2 separate regions of the Homo sapiens genome follow, and region 2 is linked to region 1. Evidence: fine-mapped expression QTL. Tissue or cell type: cerebellar hemisphere. Region 1 holds a variant in brackets; the other region holds the start of a gene. All regions are shown on one strand. Distances are from middle to middle.

What was found. PIP is the estimated chance that this variant, and not a neighbour inherited with it, causes the effect. A credible set is the group of variants that fine-mapping cannot tell apart.
Region 2: it holds the start of CDH12, and the variant in region 1 is the best candidate, but not a certain one, in a credible set for the expression of CDH12 in cerebellar hemisphere (GTEx, PIP 0.80).

Annotation. Positions count from the first base shown.
Region 1 is chr5:23,099,098-23,105,203 of GRCh38, forward strand. No RefSeq gene overlaps it. Among named protein-coding and RNA genes, the nearest start is that of CDH12, 250 kb to the left of the region's middle. The variant C/T (reference allele first, on the strand shown) is at 2,715.
Region 2 is chr5:22,850,032-22,856,137 of GRCh38, forward strand. It overlaps CDH12 (cadherin 12), which reads right to left and starts at 3,313. Exons shown (of 15, transcript NM_004061.5): 1 at 3,027-3,313.

The DNA of each region.
Region 1 (6,106 bases):
AAGTAACCATAAAAATTGGGAACAAGCCAATGATATCCATAATGCTGATGTAAAGTTAATACATCATATGTTACATGTAGGGGAATAAGAGAGTGAAGACAGCAAAACTATCTTGTATATATTTTCATACACAAATATACTTATAACAAAAGAAAGATGAAATATTCATGACAATTACAGTCTTCATTTCTGTAACAGGTCATGTGGTCATAACTGATATTTAGACCTCTCTTCCACTATCCACTCTATATTTTCTTTACCTCAGCTGGTTATGTTTCTTTACCTGGTGGTAAACTACCGCCAAACTACCATTCTTGAAGAGTCTGGGCTATTAGTAGTCCTTCTTCCTGGAATAGGTTCTTGGAATTTTTCTGACTTAATCACAAGACATGAGCAGGACATTAAGAGCCATCCTCAAAGATTTCCTATGTTTCAGAATACTCTTCCTTGCTTCCCTTGTGGAGTAGTAGTCTAATTTCCCCACGGTGGTCAGGATCAATAACTCCAGCCAGCACTGTGACTCCCTTATATGCCTGTTGACTCAGATGCATGAGGAACCAAAGTGGCCGGGTGATGGTCATAACTTTCAGTTTAATGGAACCATTGTTGTGTGTTTTGATGGAAACATTCCTCCCTCTAGAACTAAGACACCTAGGACTGAAGAACTTAAAGTTGTAGAAACAGGAAATAAAATTTTGCTAGTGGATTGCTATAGGTAATAATGAGTGATGCCATTCCCATTTTTACCTTTTGATTTCTTGACTCAAGAATCCTGGTTATGAGAGAAATAGTACCACATTTCAGATGATGATTTAGAGCAATTACAGTTTGCCCTCCATATCTGCAAGTTCTGCATCATCAGATTTCAACCAGCTGCCAATCAAAATTATTTTTTAAGTAAAAATACAATAACAAATAATATTAAGTAAAAATGATACAGTATGACAACTACTTATATAACATTGACATTGTATTAGATTTTATAAGGAACCTGCAGATGATTCAGAATATCTGAGAGGATGTTCTAGGTTATATGCAATTACTACACCATTTTACGTAAGAGACTTGAACATCCTCTGATTCTGATATCCATAGGGAATCCTGGAAGTAATTCCCTGTGGATACAGAGCAATGACTGTCCAGCCTTCAGGAGAACCTAGTTTCCTAGGTAATAATAATTCTAGTAGTTTTCACCTGGCTTTTCTCACCATAAGAGCCCTCATCCAATAGGTCAAGGAACCAATGTGGTGACTGCCAGCTGCTGAATCTGTGTATTCCAACTCCGCATTTCCCACCTGGGGAAATAACCAAAGTTATTGAGCCCACTCTGAGATGGACCTAAGCTCAAATTCTATTAGTCGTCTAGCAGCCAGAAAGTCCTACTCTGACTGGTGGAACACAATGGTGTTTTGGTTCTCCTGGAATTAGTGTCAGTTCAGAGACAGTGTCAGTAGTTCCCAAAAGTTCTGATTATTGCCTTTTTCCAAATTTATGGTTATCCTCGTAAAGGGTTTTAGGTCTCTTTGAGAAAGGCTGAAAGAGTGAGTAACAATATGCATTTTCAGTAGTGTATCAGGTCCTTCTTCGAGAAAACCTGACTTCTTCATTCAAGGGGTTCAGGGTGTGTAAACTGACTCAAGTCTAGGATTTAATTTGGAGTCCATGATTCTCTCTCTCTCTCTCTCTCTAGTTTCTTTTCTTTAGTCTTTTGTGGGTGCAAATATAGGCTAAGCTTTTGTTCACTTGACCTAAAACTTTTCTGCTTACAAAGATTAAGTAAGATTTAGTAAGATTTCTGTCTATTTCACTTCTAGAAACACCACCATCAAGTAGCCAATGTCACAAGTCTGCGTAAATCAGACTATTCTGATTGCTACTTTGATCTCCTATTCAGTGTAGTCACCATGTACACATTGCCCTACGTGGCCCCTGCCCCCCAAGGATCCAATTACTACCACTGTATTTAGGTTTCCCAATTCAGTAACCAAATTTTTCACTGTAAGTTCTGCTCTACAGAGAAGAGCTATCACAGAGCTTTCAAGGATACTTTCAGCCTCACCTCACAAATATATTCCTCACAGTTGTGGTGAAAGGTCTTTTGGCCCTTCCCAGTGTAGATAAATATCTCTAACTTTCAAATTCATTCCTGTACATCAAACCAAGGCAGATCCAGCATTTCTGATTTACTCACTGTGGGCCATATATGGTTTATATTTCAAGTAACCAAATAAATTGTCAGAGCTTTCCTGAAGCTCAAAATTGCAACATTAAATGCAGAGTCTCTGCTATTGTGAATAGTGCTGTGATGATCATACTAGTGCATGTATCCTTTTAGTAGAATGATTGCTGAGTAAAATGGTAGTTCTGTTTTAAGTTATTTGAGAAATCTCCAAACTTCTTTCCACTGTGGCTGAATTAATTTAAAATTCCACCAAGAGTGTATAACCATTCTCTTTTCTCCACAATATCTCAAACATCTGTTTTTTTTTCTTTTTGACTTTTTGATAATAGTCATTCCGACTGGTGTGAGATAGTATCTCACTGTGGTTTTGATACACCATGGAATACTATACAACCATAAAAAAGAATGAAATCATGTTCTTTGAAGCAACATGGATGCATCTGGAGGTCAATATCCTACGCAAACTAATGTAAGAACAGAAAACCAAATACTCATGTTCTCACTTATGAGTGAGAACTAACCACTGAGTACA[C/T]ATGGAAATAAAAATGGGAAAAATAGACGCTGGGGACTTCTAGAGAGGGGACGTTGGGAAGGGGCAAAGGCTGAAAATCTACCTATTGGGTACTATGTTCACTATCTGGGTGATGGTATCATTTGTACCCCAAACCTCAGAGTCACACAATTTAGCCACATAGCAAATCTGTACATGTACCCTCTGAAACAAAATTTTTAAAAAATTAATAAAATAAATATAAATAAATAAACGCAGAATCTTTGCTTTGTGAGCACATATCAATAATTCAGCCTGATTCAACTTTATTTTCCTTCCACCATTTTCTCACACCCTCAATGTCTATTTCCAGACATTTTGCTTAGATTTCCGAGGAGGATGGGGTGGGTCCTGAGGAGAACTAACATTTACTTACATGGCAACTGCCTCAGGAAACATCATTATAGTTTCCTCAGGCAATGCGAGCTAATTCTTTCAGACACTGGTGAAGACGCTGTTGCCACAGGCCAGAAAGTTGTTTGCACTGGGGGTGAGGAGGCAACTTTGGTGGAGAGGCTTCTTCCACTGTCAAAGAAGTCATCAGAATTTAAGGGTTCTATATGCCAAAGTTCAGGGTCTTTCCACATATCCACATTCCAAATTTTAAAATCTCATACCTTCCCTATTAATGCCCTAACTTTAACAGCAGTTGTTGTGTAAGATGTCTACTCTAAAGGTAGGAGTTCAACTTGTTAATTCAGCCAGTCATAAGATGAGATTAAGTGTTTGATTTTCAACAATCTCAGCCCCTTTGCTACAGGATATTGGAATGTCTTTCAGGGCACACAAAGATGCCTTCAGGTCATTAATATGGCACTTAAGCAGGAAATTTAATTCCCCAAGGTCCTCCCTTTTTTTTTTAACCACTTATTCAGGCAACATTAGGAGCAACCAACGAATCTTGTTAGATTTATTAGTTTTCCAAAAATATTCAACAATGTCATAAACACGGTCATTTGGTTCCTTGTATCTTATTAGCGCTGGTTAAGAATATCCAATGTACCAGTCCAGGCAACATGACAAAACCCCATCTCTCCTGAAAACAAACAAACAAACAAACAAACAAAAATAGCCGAGTATGGTGATGTGTGCCTGTAGTCCCAGCTATTCAGGAAGCTGAGGAAGGAGGGTCTCTTGAACCCAGGAGATGGAGCTTGCAGTGAACTGAGATCACACCACTGTACTCTAGCCTGGGCAATAAAGTGAGATCCAGTAAAAAAAAAAAAAAGAGTATTCAATGTAGATATTTTGTGTATCTCTAGTATCTCTATTGCCAGAATGCTTCCTTCACTACTACAAATAGTTATTGGCATCTTAAAAGCCAATTATATTAGACAGCCAAATCCAGAAACCACAGAGACAATTTAAAAATCTGTACAACCACTCTCAGCACCAAAATCTGTTTTAGTCAGGTTTCTGTAGAAAAACAAGGCCAATATATAATTAACCATATGTGAAGTTTTAATGTATAATCTACCCATTTAGATAAACTTTTCTTAGCCCCTGAAGCTGAATTCAGTTTTTCTCAGTTCCACAGAATGCATTTAGCTTTACTGGACAGATGTAGTGACAAGTCTAAATTCTTCACTTCTGCCTTAAAATTGTTAATAAATAGACATATCTCATTGACCCCTAAGATAAGAAATGCTTTTGTGTTTTTTCTCTACTATTATTTTCTCAATGAAGTGTATATTCTATATTATGAATAAAATGCAAAGCTTTAGGCTTATTTCATAAGAATGTGCTTTAACCTGGTTTTTGGTGCATCTACCCCTAAAATATATGTTGTGTGTTATATGTGCGTAATTCTATAAAGTGTAATTGTATAGAGTTACCTTTATGTATGTGAGTATGGTGGATGTTATGATTCACAGCTCAGTTCCTCCTTCAGGCTGAGGGTCTATTTCCAATGGCTGATAGGAGTATTGTTGGCAGAGAGCCCTCAGCTGTCAGCACTCTTCCAAATTAACTTGGTTAAAAAAAAGGTCACATATGCTCCCCTGGAAGCCTCCACCCTGGGACTGGCTATGAAGGACAATAAAAATATAATTTTTTGACCATACTTGGACACTTAGGAAGATCCACTGAAACTTGAGAGCTCCCCATGTACAGCTAGTTTTTCATTGAACCTTCTTTTCACCCAAACGTCTTTCTCTAATCAGCCCTGCTTCTTTCCTTTTTCTTCCAGGGATTTGATCCTAAAAGTGTACAGTAATAAATACTCTGCCTGCTAATCTAAGTCTCAGAATCAGCTTGCAGGGAACCTAACCTCCAGTAATGATAGATTTATAGATGATAGGTAGCTAGACAGATTAATAGATTTACAGATAGACAACTGGATCCTTAGGTAGCAAACACAAAGTAACCGGGTTCAGTTAATTCAGGATTCTATAAATAATAAAAATTTTCTCTCGAATTAAAATATGTACGCAATCATCTTATATTATGTAGATATCAATTTGCATCCTGATTCTACCACTTACTAATTGTGCCAACTGGGAAAGTTATCCTCTGTAAATTTCAAAATTTTTATTTTACAATGGTAGTAATAATAAATCCTAATATTGTTGCTGTTAAAAAGTCAGTGAGAGAGGGGGCTTCAGGATGATGACTGACTAGAGTCATCTGACATTAGCCTCCTCCACAGAGAAGAACAAAAATAGCAAATAGATAATCACACTTTGAAAACAGCAGCTACAAGATATAATGATATTCTATAATGATATCAATAATATAATGATATTCCCAGGAAAAACCTGAGGAATAGAAGGAGAGGGAAGTGAGGCACCCTGCCTACCTGGGATCACCTGGGACCCTGAAGAGGCTTGCCATGTGGAGAAAAGGTAAGTGAGAGATCCCCAGCCGTCCATATTCCCACAATCCTAGCCACAGGAGAAGCTTTTGATTCCTGTGAGCCCTGAGACCAGTCTGGGAGCTACCTGGAGTCCGTAAAACATCATTGCTTTGGAGGGAGATCATGATGGGTCCCGCGCATCTTCTGAGACCCAAGCAGTTGGAACATGGTACCATTTTGAGAACGAAGCCCTGACAAGACAGCATCCTGCCCTGGGGCTCAACAGTTCCTGAAACTCCATATCCCTGGAGCCCCATAGGATATCCCTCCACATCCACCCAAAGGGCTTCAGTGGTGGGATGTCAATTGAACCCAGAAGTCTTGCAGGGTTCCCAGTGCTCTAAGCTGCACAGTGTCCTATGCCTTGGAAAATGGCAGTGTAGTACAGGTAGTAGGCTGGTCTTGGGACAACAGGAGCAAAAATGTGTACTGTTCAGAGCCTGAAAGCCACCTGGCCATTGCCACTGAGAGTAATGCCACCCACACCAGAAACAGAACTGCTGTGCAATTGCATGTACCC
Region 2 (6,106 bases), 250 kb before region 1:
AATTGAGTAATTGAATAATTGAATTCAAAGCATTTATCTATAATCTCACAAAACGTAGAATAACATTATGTAGAGTTCATCTGTAATTTTAGAACAGTCATAACTCTCACTTAATATGTTGTAAAAAAGTTATTTACTCCATTTTATTAATCATCTTATGATGAGATGCTTAAAAACAACTTTGAGTAACTACTATTGATATTCAATACAGGCAGCATAGTACACATTCACACACACACATTTTCCTTTTAAAGTTTGGTTATGATATATTACCCTCCTAGCATAGTAAGTCAGGAAAAAGCTGCAACTGTCTTAAAGCTGAAAGTTAAAAGGCTTTTAAAAGCTCTGAGTTTAAATTGTTCAGTTATTCAGTATTAGCAAAATAAAAAGCTCCCAGTAAAAATAATACATTTTCATTTATTTAACAATTAAATGTATTTTTGGGTACTATTTAAGCCTATTCATAAAAATAAAATGCAATATTTGTTAAACAGGAAGGATAAATATTTTCCACCTATAATTTAACACAAATAGGAATATCAATTGGTACTAGATTATAAGCAAAATGTTCTCTATTGATGTAATGATCACATGATAATTTCTGACATAATTACTTTTAAAACAGCAATAATTTGCTAGAAGATGAACAGGATAATATCTTACTTTAAATGAGACATCTGTAATCACTCTTTCCCTTTGGAAGTAGGAAGAAATTTACAACAGAGTCTGCTAGTAGGTCATTTTATTACCCAAGCCCTTAGATTTTATATTTTTACATGAAAACATGGCTCACTTTTAAAGACAGCCATCACTCTATGAATCCTCCTATCATGGCAAGACTGATTTGATGTTCATCACAATGCATTTTAAGAGGCAAGAGTGACATATATCCTTATTAATCTCATAATGATAAAGGATTGATTTCAACCTATATCCCAGACTGTTACATGAAATAGGCTCTGCCAAAATATCAGGTTCAAAAGATGCTCAATTTAAGGAGATCAGTTTTATGCTCCATCCTCAAAGGACAGAGTTATATGAGGTGTAAGTACGTCACATGAGGCATTAAGAGAAATTTTCTTCCCCATAAACTAAACACTGTTTGTACTGTAGTAAGAACTTAATACATATCATTCCGTGTGTGGAAGAAATGACTCACACTCCCTCCCCCTCCCCCCAACAATAATGCAGCTTTCTCTTTTTTGTAGGAATTATCTAAAATGATCACATCACTAAGCAGATCAGTGAGAGGAGTGAGTTTGAGTAGAAAATAAAAAAGCATTCGTGGCTTAAAAACTTCCCCCTACTGCTTGGAAATGGCACACCACAGTAGAAGTTAAGAACACAGCAAGCAGAGATTAACTGAACAACACAGAAAATCAAAAACATTTTTTTAATGGGGAAGGGGATTAACAATGCCAGGGCTAATCTTGGAAACTGGTCTCTGAAGTAAGAGTTATTAAGAGAAAAATATGTTATGTTCTAGAATTCGATTTTCAACTTAATTGAAAACCTCTTTTTACTTCAGTAGTTTTCATAGAAGGTGGAGAGACAGTTTCTAAATATTGTTGCTGAATAACTCGATGTATCAGTTAAATTAGTTAAAGGGAAGCCCCTGTTTTGCATGTGGCTATCCACTCAACCACTCCAAAACAATTCGTCAATCACCTGTTCATGGTTTGGGCAAAGTAACCATCTGCCTTTCAATTCTGAAGAGACATTCTGCTAGAATCATGGAATTATTTATAATAAAAACTTACTCGGTTGAATTCTCCTGTTGACATAATAATAAAAATATATAAGATGATATTTTAAATTGTCTAGGATAATTTAATGATGAGGCGCTGCCACTGAATGATGAGGTTCAGTATTTCTTGACAGCTGTGTGTCTGGATATTATTTTATAACCTTACAACTGCTCAGGTATACAGTGAAGATCAAGCAAACTAATACCTGCTTGGCATGGTTGCATTTTTCCTGTTTTGGTCATGTATAGTGTAATTTAAAACTGTAAACACATTTTCAGAATCTACTCTATTTGAATTTTTCCCCCTCAGTATGTAAGGTAATTTTCTAGCTGAGCAGTTTGTGAATGAGCTTCAAAATACTCGATGAGAAATTGAGAATCATGAAATGGTCGCAGAATCAGCCAGAAGTATGTCAGTTCCCTCTCCAGAGAGTACAGAGAAATGTGTATAAGAGATATCAGGTACTCTGAAGTACAGAGGTTCTAAATACACTGTGGTCCCGATGTAGCAAAAAACAAATAATGATGTTAAAAACATAAGAAAATACTTATAAAATGCTGAAGGTCTTTTTTGAAAAATGATTTGCCATTATGTCCTATATCACACATATTTCCTCCTTGTTAAATGTATCACCAAATGATCAATAACCTTAAAATAATTTGGAAATGCATATTATATAACCCACAGCAGATCTGGTAATCTATCTCTTTCATTTGTCCCAGATTAGTTTTGTGGTAGGAAACTCAAATGGCTGTACCATGAGAGGCAGGCCATTAAAACATTTAAATGGTTTTACAGTGGTATTTTTCAAATGAAGAATGAAGTTCATAAATTTCAGCGTCAGTGGAGAAATGAGTGAGGGGGGTCGGCATCTCTGGAAGCTCTTTGAAAATAAAGCATTCATTATTTTGTTGTAAAAATCAGATATCTATAAAGCCATTTATAAAATAACTAGTTGGACATCTAGCACACCTACTTATTTTCATTTGAAAATTTAGCCATGCTAAGATGCATTTGAGGTTAAAACATTTCTTTCCTTCCTCTTTTCACGTAACCTCTCACGGTCTGAGGACCAGAGACTTGTTTAGAACTTACCGAAGTTTCCCAAAGCAAAACCACGCACAAGCTCCTAATTCAGCTGCCAGATCTGTGTGCAGCTTCGTTCAGCTTCTCACTACGCTAGGCATCACTTTATTAATCATGTATGAATTTCTGTGCATGCACCCTGAAGCGATCACACACACGCGGTGCAATCCCAATCAAAAACGGAAGCCTTACCTGATGGCAGAAAAGGCAGCTGCAGGAGCAGCAGCACCGACGGCCGCAGCAGGGTGCCAACAGCTCAGCCTTGCGCGGAAGGTGAGACCCTTCTCTTCTGTTTCCCCTTTCCAAATCACTGTGCCAACACACTGCTTTGCATTTTGTCCGTTTTCATTCAAAGAAGGTTCTCCAGGCCGGGCAGCCAGTAGACACCACTTTCTTCCTGGAAGAGGCTGCCTCTCTTCTCAGAAAAGCCTGGACCCCTCTCTGTGGCTCCCTCCACATTTACCCTTCAGATCAATAATGCTCTCGGAGCGGCTGGAGCTCAACTGCAGCGGCGAGCGGCGAGCCAATGGGGGCCCAGGATTCCCTCCTGTCATCTCCCCGCCCTCAAAACAAAACACAGCGTGCCTTTGACACATCATTGAGTAGTGAAAAGTAATTGAATCCTATATTTGAAATGTATTTTGTTTGTTCTTTTTCCCCCCTAGCGTTCATTGTAGAATGCTTTGAATGAATCCGAGGACTCCTTAGCTCTCAGAAGACTCATTAAACGAGCCTAGCAGCGGGTGAAGATTAGGCGCTGAGAAAGTGATAGCACCTGGGTTAGCACCCGAAGCTTTGCTTTTTAAATGCTTGAGATCTATTGCATATCAGAGAACTGTCACCTGGGAGGAAAAAATCTTGGGTTCTATTAGTCTTTCCTCCACTAAGTCGCTTGAGTCTTTTTTGTGAATCAAGACAATTAATTACGTTTACCTGGAAGCTGTCTCAATGTTTAATTGTCTAAACGAGAATCAGATGCTTATTGGTGACAATAACCATGCTCAAGCAATTTCTCCTAATTCACTTACTTGTTTCTAGGCTGATTTAACTTGGTTCAGAGTCTATGAAGAACTCAAGATTGCTAAGACTATATACATTAGTCTGGTCTGTTTTAATTTTGTCATGTTTAAATATTGTAAGATTTTAAAAATTAATGTTAATTTCTCTTTATATGAGAGAATTTATTAATAATTACCTAAAACTTTATAGAATATTATAATGGCAATAAAATATTACAATGAAAAGTGTTATTGTTGAAAACCTATTCCTCCAAAAGCCACAAAACAACTTTGCATTCTTTAACCATGATTATCTTTCTTTGTGTTTCACTATTAAAGTGCTAACTATTGAATAAACATTTGCTTAAATATATTCACCAAGAATCGTGTATTTTCTAAGACTCTAAGTCATTTTATTATTCAGACATCAAGAATGCCACAATATTTCAGATAATCATTTAATTTTGTTCTATAAAAAATCTCAAGAGTACAGAGTCTCAATACAGTTTTAAAAATATGTCTCCCTACAGGAGGACTGTACACAAATAACAATGTCTTTTCAATGCTAGTGTTGAAAAAGAATAAAATTATTGGGACTGTCTGAAATCTTTTTGTTTCACTGAATACAAATGTGTTGATGTAGGTGGTGTAGCCAAGCTTTGTGTATCGTGACAAATTGAAATGGCTTGGGGAGACTTTACAAACAAAACAATTTCGTGACCTGTCTATCACGTGAAGGGAGGCACGGAAAAATGTAATATTTACACACTGTATGCTGTGTCACTATAACAAGGTGAATGCTAACTTTATTGTAACTCATTTATGTAGCCAATAAATATTTCATTCAGGGCAGTCTCTGGCTAAGTTTGGTCACTTGGATTTTGTGAAGAAAAGAATATGCTGATGAAAAAATGAATCATAAACATTGCTTTTCCCTCAATTGTATAGTATATTTTTCATTTATTTAAATTCCTTTTTTGATCACAAATAATAGGTCATTGACTACAGAACATTGTCTTTGTACTACAGGTCGAGAGTTCTCAATGTGTGGTCCCCAGACCAATAGCAAAAACATCACCTGGAACTTGTTGAAAAGACAAGTTCTCAAGCCCTTCCCCAAGCCTATCAAATCAGAAACTTTAAGAGAATGGGACACTGCGATCTATGTTTTAATATCCCTCCAGATGCTTCCAATGCACATTCAGGTTGGACAGTCATTGCTCTAGCTAAGGGGTCTACAAATTACAACAGAAGACCAGCCACCTGCTTTTGTAAATAAAGACTTATTGAAACCCAGTGGTGCCGATTTCTTTATGTATTGTCCATGACCGCTTTCGCATTACAATGGCAGAGTCAAGTAGTAGCCACAGAGACTTACAATATGAATCCTAAAATGTTTACTATCTGTCATTTAAAAAATAAATGTTTTGACCCCTCCTAGCGCATTGTAAGATGTGCAATATTATTAGTACAAACGGCAAAAGTTGAAGAAAAAAGAGCATCTGAAGGTGGAGTGGAGAAGATCAAATTAATGAAATCATTGAGATTTGAAAGAGATTGAAAATGATCATGTAATAAATTACATTGGTGTGTGTGTTTTGCAGATTTTTGCTGCTCTCCCTGTAGGAGGGATGCACTTCTCCCCAGTCTTGGCATCTTAGTATGAAACATGAATGGAAAAGAATATTGCCATTTCCAAACAGAATATTGAAGAACAAATATAAATTTGTGCGCACTCTATCAGCATGGGTTGTTGAAAGAAGAGAACATTGGAGTCTTATTTGTCCCTAGATGGACATGTAGCATGGAAGGATAAAATAGCTTTTATTTCTACACCACTGAGATTTGGGGATTTTTTTGTTACTAGACTAGTAGTATCTAATCTCTCCTGACTAAAACAAGTTACAATTAATGTAAGCAGAGGTAGGAAAACAAGCATTAAAGCTTGTTTTGTAATGTAATGACTGGGACAAGGCATTTGCCTGGAAACTCAAAAATTACTTTTCGGAAAATAAAATAAATCAATAGAATTTGTTTAAGAAAATAAAGACTGGAAAGATAAAAATGGATATTAAAACATTAGGACAAATAATTAAGGCTAAGGACATCAGACTTAATTTATTAGCAATGGAAGCCATAAAGGCTGTTTAGAAAAGGTATGACATCATCAAAATTATGCTATAAGATTACTCTGTTGGCGAGGAAGAGATCAAAGGGCAATAAACAAAAGAAAATTCATCACAAGGCCGTGAAAAATTAAAACATGATGTAATA